Linked DNA regions of Homo sapiens. The protein of the gene in region 1 purifies or fractionates together with the protein of each later gene. This does not show direct contact. Each region holds a gene or a part of one and is shown on either strand. Other genes may lie near its edges. The genes, in order: CKAP2, MCM10 and MAP7D1.

Region 1 (3,651 bases):
ATTAGTATACAGATGATATTTACTTAAAAACCTTAGGATGGAATGAAATTACTAGGGAATAAGTAGAGATAATATGGATTCAGACAGTGACTCTCAACCACTTATTTAAATAAAGAATCCAACAAGGTCAGGGGTTTATAATACTCTTAATAGGAAGAAAAGAAAATTCTAAAACGCTTCATGTGGCTTAAGTACTACATTTATTCCTTTCAGAAAACAGATGTTGGCTGGGTGCAGTGGCTCATGCCTGTAATCCCAGCACTTTGGGAGGCTGAGGCGGGTGTATCACTTGAGGTCAAGAGTTCTAGACCAGCCTGGCCAACATGGTGAAACCCCGTCTCTACTAAAAATATAAAAATTAGCCGGGTGTGGTGTCAGGCGCCTGTAATTCCGGGGAGGGCCGAGGCAGAAGAATCGCTTGAACCTGGGAGGCGGAGGTTGCAGTGAGCCAAGATCAGGCCATCGCACTCCAGCCTGGGTGACAAGAGCGAGACTTTGTCTCAAAAAAAAAAAAAAGGAAAACAGATGTCAATTTAAATGTTATCACCTCAGCAGTGAATCATTAAATAAGACAACCAACCTGTGTTGCAGCTTTTCAGAATTAAACAGTTATATTTTACAATCTCTAAAGTATAGATATCCTAAGACTCATTTCCGATAACCCTTCTGAGGGCAGTTTTATAATAAGACAGAATAGGATTAAGTCTCCCCACTGGACAGGTGAGTAAGATGGGTTCTTCTTGTCATCCTGAGTTTTGTTTTGTTAGCTGGCAGTTAGCTACTAAGATACCCTGTTAAGTGGCACATTTTGATCTTCCTTCACCATTGTTCAAAATGTATAGTACAGGTTGTGTCAAAGTTCTGTTCCTTCTCCAAGCTGACAGAACAAATAGATATGAAAGGCAATGTAAGCAAAATTATTAACTACTAAATTATGTCAAATGTAAAATATATATATATATATTTTGTTTTGTTTTGTTTTTTTGAGACGGAGCCTTGCTCTGTCGCCTAGGCTATAGTGCAGTGGCGCGATCTCAGCTCACTGCAACCTCTGCCTCGTGGGTTCAAGCGATTCTCCTGCCTCAGCCTCCAGGGTAGCTGGGATTACAAGCATTTGCCACCATGCCTGGCCAATATTTTTGATTTTAGTAGAGACAGGGTTTCGCCGTGTTGGCCAGGCTGGTCTCAAACTCCTGACCTGAGGTGATCTGCCCACCTTCTCTACCCAGAGTGCTAGGATTACAGGTGTGACCCACTGTTCCTGGCCTCATTTTTTTTTTCAGAGAATGAGAGATCACGCATTTTAATGTGATCTCTGAACTTAGGATCTGTCTTAAAATCAATGGCATGTCTAATTGACCGTATTTTTTCCTATCGTTATAGTACACAAAATTGTTAAAATCACTTGCTAAGAGATGCTCACAGTCTGCCTTAGCCAGTTTATAGCTGTAAAAATAAGTTAAGTCAGTTTCTTGAGGAGGGATTTTCTTTGCAATACCGCCTAGAAACTAACGTTCTTTTTTTTGAGAGATGATCTCATTCTGTGTCACTCAGCCTCTAGTGCAGTGACGGGATCTTGGCCCACTGCCTCAACTCCCAGGCTCAAGCAGTCCTCCACCCCAGCCTCCCAAGTAGCTGGGACTATGGCACCCACCACCACACCCAACTAATTTTTTATTTTTTTGTAGAGATGGGGTTTTGCCGTGTTGCCCAGGCTGCTCTCGAACTCCTGAGCTCAAGTAATCCCCCCACCTCGGCCTCCCAAAGTGCTGCTATTACAGGCATGAGCCACCACAACCAGCAGTGCATATTCTTAATGTATCCTAATATAAATTAAGCTGTGAATGGCATATGGTAATTTTTGGATCACTTCTGGGAGGGCTCTTTAATAAAAGTATTTTCAATGTAGTACATCTGTTACTAAGTACTTAAAACTAACCCAAGGAGGTATTACTTACTAAAGGTTATTTGAAGACTTGTTTGAATGACTTGAGAATGATTTGAAATAAGATTATTAAGTATTTACAAATTCTATGGGCAGAGAGTGTTAGGACTTTTAGAAAATATCTTTAAATTCCTCAGCCATTTGTTTACACTATTTTTTTTTGAGACAGAGTCTCTCTCTGTCACCCAGGCTGGAGTGCAGTGGCTCGATCTTGGCTCACTGCGAACTCCGCCTCCCGGGTTCATGCCATTCTCCTTCCTCAGCCTCCCTAGTAGCTGGGACTACAGGACTACAAGCGCCCGCCACCATGCCCGGCTAATTTTTTGTATTTTTAGTAGAGACGGGGTTTCACTGTGTTAGTCAGGATGGTCTCGATCTCCTGACCTCGTGATCTGCCCACCTCGGCCTCCCAAAGTGCTGGGATTACAGGCATGAGCCACCGCGCCTGGCCGCTTAGGACAAATTTCAACTCAGGTCTTTTTTAAATTTAAAATTAGTAAGTCAGTTAATTGTTAACATTGCCCTCTTCTTCCTCCCCAAAAGGAAGCCTCCTTGGTACAGGATTGATTGATCATTTTGTTTGTTTGTTTTTAAGTAGTAGAGATCAGAGAGTTGTGACATCTGAGGACCAAGTTCAAGAAGGGACTAAAGTGCTGAAACTTAAAACAAAAATGGTAAGATGTGGACATAGCACTCTTAAACTGTCCCCTTTTCCATTTTGCCTTTCCTAAACACTTTTCTTAAATAATTCTTTCAGGCTGATAAAGAAAACATGAAGAGACCTGCAGAGAGCAAAAATAATACAGTGGTGGGGAAACATTGTATTCCTTTAAAACCTTCAAATGAACTAACCAATTCAACTGTAGTAATTGACACACATAAACCTAAGGATAGTAATCAAACTCCGCATTTGTTACTAACTGAAGATGATCCCCAAAGTCAACATATGACATTAAGCCAGGCATTTCACCTTAAAAACAATAGTAAAAAGAAACAAATGACTACAGAAAAACAAAAGCAAGATGCTAACATGCCCAAGAAACCTGTGCTTGGATCTTATCGTGGCCAGATTGTTCAGTCTAAGATTAATTCATTTAGAAAACCTCTACAAGTCAAAGATGAGAGTTCTGCAGCAACAAAGAAACTTTCAGCCACTATACCTAAAGCCACAAAACCTCAGCCTGTAAACACCAGCAGTGTAACAGTGAAAAGTAATAGATCCTCCAATATGACTGCCACTACTAAATTTGTGAGCACTACATCTCAGAACACACAACTTGTGCGACCTCCTATTAGAAGTCATCACAGTAATACCCGGGACACTGTGAAACAAGGCATCAGTAGAACTTCTGCCAATGTTACAATCCGGAAAGGGCCTCATGAAAAAGAACTATTACAATCAAAAACAGCTTTATCTAGTGTCAAAACCAGTTCTTCTCAAGGTATAATAAGAAATAAGACTCTATCAAGATCCATAGCATCTGAAGTTATAGCCAGGCCTGCTTCATTGTCTAATGATAAACTGATGGAAAAGTCAGAGCCCGTTGACCAGCGAAGACATACTGCAGGAAAAGCAATTGTTGATAGTAGATCAGCTCAGCCCAAAGAAACCTCGGAAGAGAGAAAGTAAGTAGATATAATTTTCTTTATTACATTAGTTTTCAATAAAGTACTGTTTGTAGATTTGGATTATAATTTCCTTGACT
Region 2 (2,677 bases), on another chromosome or scaffold:
AGGAGTCAAAAATTAGTACGCAAATGGCATACCTTTAGCATTCCGTCCCGTTCCCATTTGTAGAGGCCACAGTTACTGAAACAGAACAGATGGATTTACTCAGCAGGGTGGTGTAGGCCCACTCATGTAAAGACGACGGTGCTCACTGCACCTGGGGAGAGTAGGCCCCCATTCAAGGAGAAGCTGTTCAAGGTGACATTCGTATTGTATGCCAAATCTGAGGTTATGCTCAAATGCGACAAAAATAAACCTGCAATGACTTGGGAAGTGGTCTGTAGGTCCTTACAAAGCTAGAGGCTTCAGAGATGGAGCTTCAAATGATAATGATGGCACCACAGGGATCCACGCACTGCAGGTAATGAATGCACCCTTGGTTTTTACAAATGATGGTGGTTGGGATGAGACTCAGATTTAAGGAGCTGGCCCTCTGGTGCAGGATAATCTATGTTTGGCCCCTTCCTCCTCTTTTTTTTGGAGCAAAAAGGTTGAGCTAAGAAAGGAATAATCTTCTTTCTAGTCTGGATCATCCTTCTCCCTTTCTCTTTATAACCCAAAAGCCTTTACTCACTTTCTTTTCTTTTCCTTTTTTTTTTTTTTTTGGAGAGATGGGATTTTGCTATGTTGCCCACGCTGGCCTCAAACTCCTGGGCACAAGTGATCTGCCTGCCTCAGCCTCCCAAAGTGCTGGGATTACGGGCGTGAGCCACTGTGCCCAGCCTCTTTACTCTCTTTTTATTCAAAGGGCCCAGGGACTCTTGTTTTGTTTTTATTTTTTTTTAGAGACAGGGTTCACTCTGTGGCCCAGGCTGGAGTGCAGTAGTGCGATCACAGCTCACTGCAGCAGCCTTGATCTTCAGGGATCAAGTGATCCTCCTGCCTCAGCCTCTTGAGTAGCTGGGACCAAAGGTGTACACCACCATGCCCAGCTCATTTTTAAATTTCTGTAGAGATGGGGAGTCTCACTATGTTGCCCAGGCTGGTCTTGAACTCCTGGGCTCAAGTGTTCCATCTGCCTCAGCCTCCCAAACTGCTGGAATTACAGGCATGAGCCACCAAGTCCAGCCCTTCTTGCTCTAGTTTTTAAAATGGTGGGTGACTTCCACCCTGAGAAGGGATGTGAACACTATGGTGAAAACTTATTTCCTATGAAGTTTACTCTGGGAAAAAGAGAGAGAAAGAGAGAAGACATATAATAAAGCTAAGGAAGTATGTCTGCCTGCTTACTTGGATTTCAGAGGGTTGGGGTGGGGTGGGGATGCTCTGCCTGTCTCCCCTTCCCCTTACCTAGCTTAGAGTCTACTCGTTCTCATTAGTCTGTTCTCATGCTGCTAGTAAAGACATACCCAAGACTGGGTAATTTATAAAGGAAAGAAGTTTAATGGACTCAGTTCCACATGGCTGGGGAGGCCTCACAATCATGGTGGAAGACGAAGGAAGAGCAAAGGCATGTCTTACATGGCGGCAGGCAAGACAGTGTGTGCAGGGAACTCTCCTTTATAAAACCATCAGATCTCATGAGACTTATTTGTTTTCATGAGAACAGCCCGGGAAAGACCTGCCCCATGATTCAATTACCTCCCACTGAGTCCCTCTCTCAACTTGTGGGAATTATGGGAGCTACCATTCAAGATGAGATCTGGGTGGGGACACAGCCAAACCATATCACAATTTCTGCCCTGAAAGGTGGCACGCCAGTGGCCTTAGCCCTTACAACCTCCCAACCATCACCTTCCACCTCTAGAGACTGGTTCAGTATCAATGAAGAGAACTCTGGTAGCCTATATGTCGATCAATGATAAAATTGTGAGAAAAAAAAAATCACTATTCTAGTTAGGAGTCAGCAAACTACAACCCCAATCCAGCACATCACCAGTTTTTATAAATAAAGTTTTATTTGAACACAGCCGTGCCCAGTTGCCTGTGTATTATCTATGGTTGCTTTCAGGCTGCACCAGCAGAGCCGTGTGGTTGTGACAGATCATCTGGCCCACAAAGCCTAATATATTCACCACTGACATTTTACAGGCAATGTGTGCTGCCTTCTGTTCTAGATCAAGAACTAGCCAAGCATGGTGGCTCAGGCCTGCAATCCCAGCACTTTGGGCAGCTGAGCCCACTTGAGCCCAGGAGTTTGAAACCAGCCTGGACAACATAGTGAGACCTTGTCTCTATAAAAAAAAGTAAATTAAAAAAATTAGCTGGGTGTAGTGGTGCACACCTGTAGTCCCAGCTACTCAGGAGGCAGAAGCAGAAGGATCGCTTGAGCCCATGAGTTCAAGGCTGCAATGGGCTATGATCATGGCACTGCACTCCTGCCTGGATGACAGAGTGAGACCCTGTCTCAAAAAAAGAAGGAAAAAAAAAAAAGCAACTGACAAAAAGTCCAGAAAAAACATGGTTCTTACAATCACAGTGCCATCTGGAGGCTGAAAGGCATCATGCCCTTCCATTTGTGCCCTGTACTTAATAAACAGAATTTTTTTTAATTTTTCTAACGTTTTCCATAAGCTCTTGCTATAATGACATTTTTAGTCATCTAGTTTGGAAAAAAGTCAAGTATCAATATATAAATAACTACTTAAAAATTATAATCTAGATTGTGAAAAATTGGCAAGCCAGCTCCTGGTAAAGTGATGAACTAGCCCGGCTTCCTGGCTCCCTCCCTCAGATCTCTGGA
Region 3 (3,651 bases), on another chromosome or scaffold:
ATGCAGAGGAGCCCTCACAACTGTGCCCGGATCCAAGGCAAACCCTCTTAAAGGACTTCTGGGGAAAAACAGGAAGGGAAACAGTCAGGGCAAACAGCACTCAAGCCCAGATAGCTGGGGGTCTTCAGGGTGGAGCAGGAGAGGGTGCCTGGCAGAGCCAGAAGAGAAGGCAGGGCTGAGGAGTACAGGGAAGGCTGCTGGGAGGAATGGAGCTGGGTCCAGGAATCAGGAGATCTACCTGTGACCTGCGGGGACTGCACCACAGCTTTCTTGAGGAAGGCTTCTGCCTCTGCAAAGGGCAGGAGTGTCTCTGGTGTTCGGCTCAGACTCTTGTCCCCAGAGGGTCCGTTGGTGGAGAAGCCATTCTCCTGGTGTGCTGGGAGAGGCTGCAGGCCATTCACCAGGGACGCTGGCAACTCCTTGCTTGGGAGACTGTGGATGCAGAGGCCAAGGCTCAGCACCTCACCTCCCAGGAAAGCCCAGGCCACCCCGCAGCTCCAGCTGCAGTCTGCCTCCCTGCTCAGGGACCCTGGGATTGGAAGCTGGTACCTCCACTGAGGCTCCTGTGGGATGGGCTCCTCTTTCTGCACAGCCTCCTTCTGCAGCCCTGGGGACCGAGCCTCCACAGCTTTCACAGGCTCTGTCACAGGGAAAGAGGGGCCATCAGCCAGGGGCTGGCAAGAGAGGTGAGGATGGAGGAGGAGGAGGATGGCAAAGGGAAGGGAGGCGAGAGGAATGGGGGCTTTACCTGGGCTGGAACCGTTGGCGTTGGCCTCCTTGCTGTCCTGCTTCTGCTTTGAAGAGGAAGAGCAGTCAGGCTCAAGGGACAGCCGGCCCCAGCCACTTCGGACTGAGTTCGGCCCTCCCCTTGCCCGGGCCGCAGCGGCCTCCCTGACAGCCTCGCTCTCCGTGGCCATGGATGCCTTTCCGCAGCCTCCTTTTCACACCCTGCCCCCCACGCCCAGCACTGCCCTTCGGGGGAATTCTGACCTTGGTTTCAGAAACTTCTGACTTCCGAGTCCTCTTCATGATCTCCTCCAGACGCTGTTTGGAGGCCGCAGATCAGTTAGGCTCGAGCCCCGCCCCTAATCCTAAACCTCCCACCAGCCAGACCCGGCCTCGGAGTCTTAGGGCCTCCCAGCTCATAGCAGCCCTCTCCAGGACAGGAACTGGAATTTGCCCCAGCGCTTTCCCGTCCTGTCCGCTCTAAGCCCAGGCCCCGCCCACCTGGCCCGCCCTGCCCAGGCCCCGCCCACAAATCCCCGCCCAGGTCCGCACACCTTTCTGCGCTCTTGCCGCTCTTGCTCCTGCTGCTGGAAGTGCTTTTCCCGCTCCAGACGCTGCCGCTCCGCCTCTTCCCGCGACCGAGCTTCGGCCTCCTCTTTCTGCCAAAGACCCCCATGAGCGTGGGGCACTTGACTCCAGCCTTCCCTCCCGGCCCGCGGCGCCCGCGCCCAGCCGCTTCCCGCCCGCCGGGGGCACCTGCTTCTGCAGCCGCTCCTGCTCCTCCTGCTCGGCCTGCGCCTTCTCTCGTGCCTCCTGCTCCTCCCGCCTCCGGGCCTCCGCCTCCCGCTCCGCCCGGGCCTCGGCCTCCCGTGCCAGCTGCTCCTCTCGCATTCGCCTGGGGGACGGAGCAAACGGCTCAGGCTCGGCCTCTGCTTCTTCTCCAGCGCCCACGAGGGCCCCCTCAGTCCCCGAGGCGCACTCACTTGTCCCTTTCTGCCTGCAGCCTCCGCTCCTGCTCCTCGCGCTCCCGCTGCTCCCGGGCCTGGCGCCGCTTCTCAGCCAAGAGCCGAGTGGCTTCTTCTCGGTCTGTGGTGCCGGCCATTGGTTTGCTAGGGGTCACCGGGGGAGCAGGGGCTGGGGGTGAGGTCAAGACAGCAGCGTCTGGAGGGGGATCCGGGATCAGGCGTCAGCACACCCACGCAGACACCGCCGTCATCTCCCAGCGGCCTGTGTTCTGGGCCTGGGACTGCTGAGGGCAGGAGTCTCCTCTTTCCATGTCCCACTCCCAGTCCTCAGGCATCTCTGGCGGCCCACACCCCCACACAGGAGAAGCTGGCTTCTCTCGCTCGGCCCACCCCTCCCCTCTCTTCATTCCTACCTGTAGGGGTCTCCGCGGGGGGCTGCTCCTTCTGGGGCGGGGCTGGGGTGGGCGAGGGCGCCGGCGAAGGTGCCGGTGAGGCTGGGGCTGCTGACTCCTTCTCGTTACTGGCCCTGCGCTTGCTCTGGCTCTTGTCCTCGGGCCCTGCGGCGCTGGGGCTCTCCTTTGCCTCCTCCTTCCTCCGAACCCGCCCCTTGGGGGATGCAGTGGTGCCTCGGGGGGACGGTGGCTTTGGAGGCAGAGTGTGGCCTGGCCCTGGGCTGGGGCAGGGGGAGGCAGGCCTGTGCCAGGATGTGGAGGGAGAGGATGGCCTGGCCTTGGATTTGGGGCTAAGAGAAAAGGGAAAAGGGAAGGGTTAGGAGACACACACACCCACACGCTGAGAACTTGTTCCTTCCTCTGGGAGGTGCCCCCTCCCCCAGGCTACATCAGCGCCGCCCCCCGCCCCCTTGCTCTCACAGAAACACACCATTCCCTTTTAGAGCATACACCCCAGTTTGTAATGACATGTTTCTGTGGGATTCTTTGATTATTGTATGTCCCCCGCCAATAGCCTGTAAGCTTAATAAGAGAAAAAACCATGCTTGGGTTAGCTCAGCAACGTGTCCTCAGCACCCTGAGTGCTACCTGACAGGTCCATTCATTCAGCAGGTTTTGTTGTTGTTGTTGTTGTTGTTTTTAAGACAGAATCTGGCTGACCCCCAGGCTGGAGTGCAGTGGCATCATCATACATAGCTCACTACAGCCTCGACCTCCTGGGCTCAAGCAATCCTCCCCTTGGCCTCCCAAAGTGCTGGGATTACGGGCGTGAGGCACTACCCTGGCCCTTCAGTAGGTATTCACTGAGTGGTTACCAGGTGCCAGGCACTATTTTAGGTGTTGGGGTACTTCAGTAACCAAAACACTTAAAAAAACAAAAACAAAAACGAACAAAAAGAAAAATGGAGGCTGGGCGGGGTGGCTTACACTCACACATGTAATCCCAGCACTTTGGGAGGCCAAGGCGGGTGGATCACCTAAGCTCAAGAGTTCAAGATCAGCCTGGACAACGTAGCGAAACCCCCACTCTACCAAAAATACAAAAAATTAGCCGAGCGTGGTGGCGCGCCTGTAGCCCCAGCCACTTGGAAGGCTGAGGTGGGAGGATAGCCTGAGCCTGGGAGGTCAAGGCTGCAGTGAGCCGAGATTGTGCCACTGCACTCCAGCCTGGGTGACAGAGGGAGATCCTGTCTCAAACAAAACAGAGAGAATCTGCCCTCAGGGAAGTTGCATTCTAGAGGTGGTTGCCCAACAAATATTTGTGGGTGATGAATAAATGACCCGGTGAGGGGCAGGGTCCCTCGCACCGCCCGCGCCCACCTGAGCTCAGAGGCGGTGCTGGCAGAGAGGCGGGCACGTGGGGAGGCGGGCAGCGACTGGCGCTTCTTGAGGCTGCGCTCCCGGGCTAGGGCACTCTTCTCCTTCTCGTTTTCCCGCTCCTTGTCCTTCTTCTCCTTTTTCTGCACCTGGCAGGGAAGGAGGAACGGAAGAGGAGAGTAGAGGTCAGC

The links.
Region 2: the proteins of CKAP2 (region 1) and MCM10 purify together in Homo sapiens (affinity purification with mass spectrometry; one large-scale study listed by BioGRID and IntAct). This does not show direct contact.
Region 3: the proteins of CKAP2 (region 1) and MAP7D1 purify together in Homo sapiens (affinity purification with mass spectrometry; one large-scale study listed by BioGRID and IntAct). This does not show direct contact.

The regions. Positions count from the first base shown.
Region 1 is NC_000013.11:52,458,356-52,462,006, forward strand, and holds part of CKAP2 (cytoskeleton-associated protein 2), read left to right. Parts: intron 1-2,540; coding exon of another isoform or gene 2,541-2,543; coding exon 2,544-2,619; intron 2,620-2,702; coding exon 2,703-3,571; intron 3,572-3,651. UniProt on the Homo sapiens protein: Possesses microtubule stabilizing properties. Involved in regulating aneuploidy, cell cycling, and cell death in a p53/TP53-dependent manner.
Region 2 is NC_000010.11:13,206,489-13,209,165, reverse strand, and holds part of MCM10 (protein MCM10 homolog), read right to left. Parts: intron 76-2,677; coding exon 33-75; intron 1-32. UniProt on the Homo sapiens protein: Acts as a replication initiation factor that brings together the MCM2-7 helicase and the DNA polymerase alpha/primase complex in order to initiate DNA replication. Additionally, plays a role in preventing DNA damage during replication.
Region 3 is NC_000001.11:36,176,655-36,180,305, reverse strand, and holds part of MAP7D1 (MAP7 domain-containing protein 1), read right to left. Parts: intron 3,610-3,651; coding exon 3,464-3,609; intron 2,434-3,463; coding exon 2,105-2,433; intron 1,888-2,104; coding exon 1,710-1,887; intron 1,622-1,709; coding exon 1,483-1,621; intron 1,386-1,482; coding exon 1,281-1,385; intron 1,045-1,280; coding exon 991-1,044; intron 795-990; coding exon of another isoform or gene 792-794; coding exon 749-791; intron 641-748; coding exon 550-640; intron 433-549; coding exon 239-432; intron 59-238; coding exon 48-58; 3' UTR 1-47. UniProt on the Homo sapiens protein: Microtubule-stabilizing protein involved in the control of cell motility and neurite outgrowth. Facilitate microtubule stabilization through the maintenance of acetylated stable microtubules.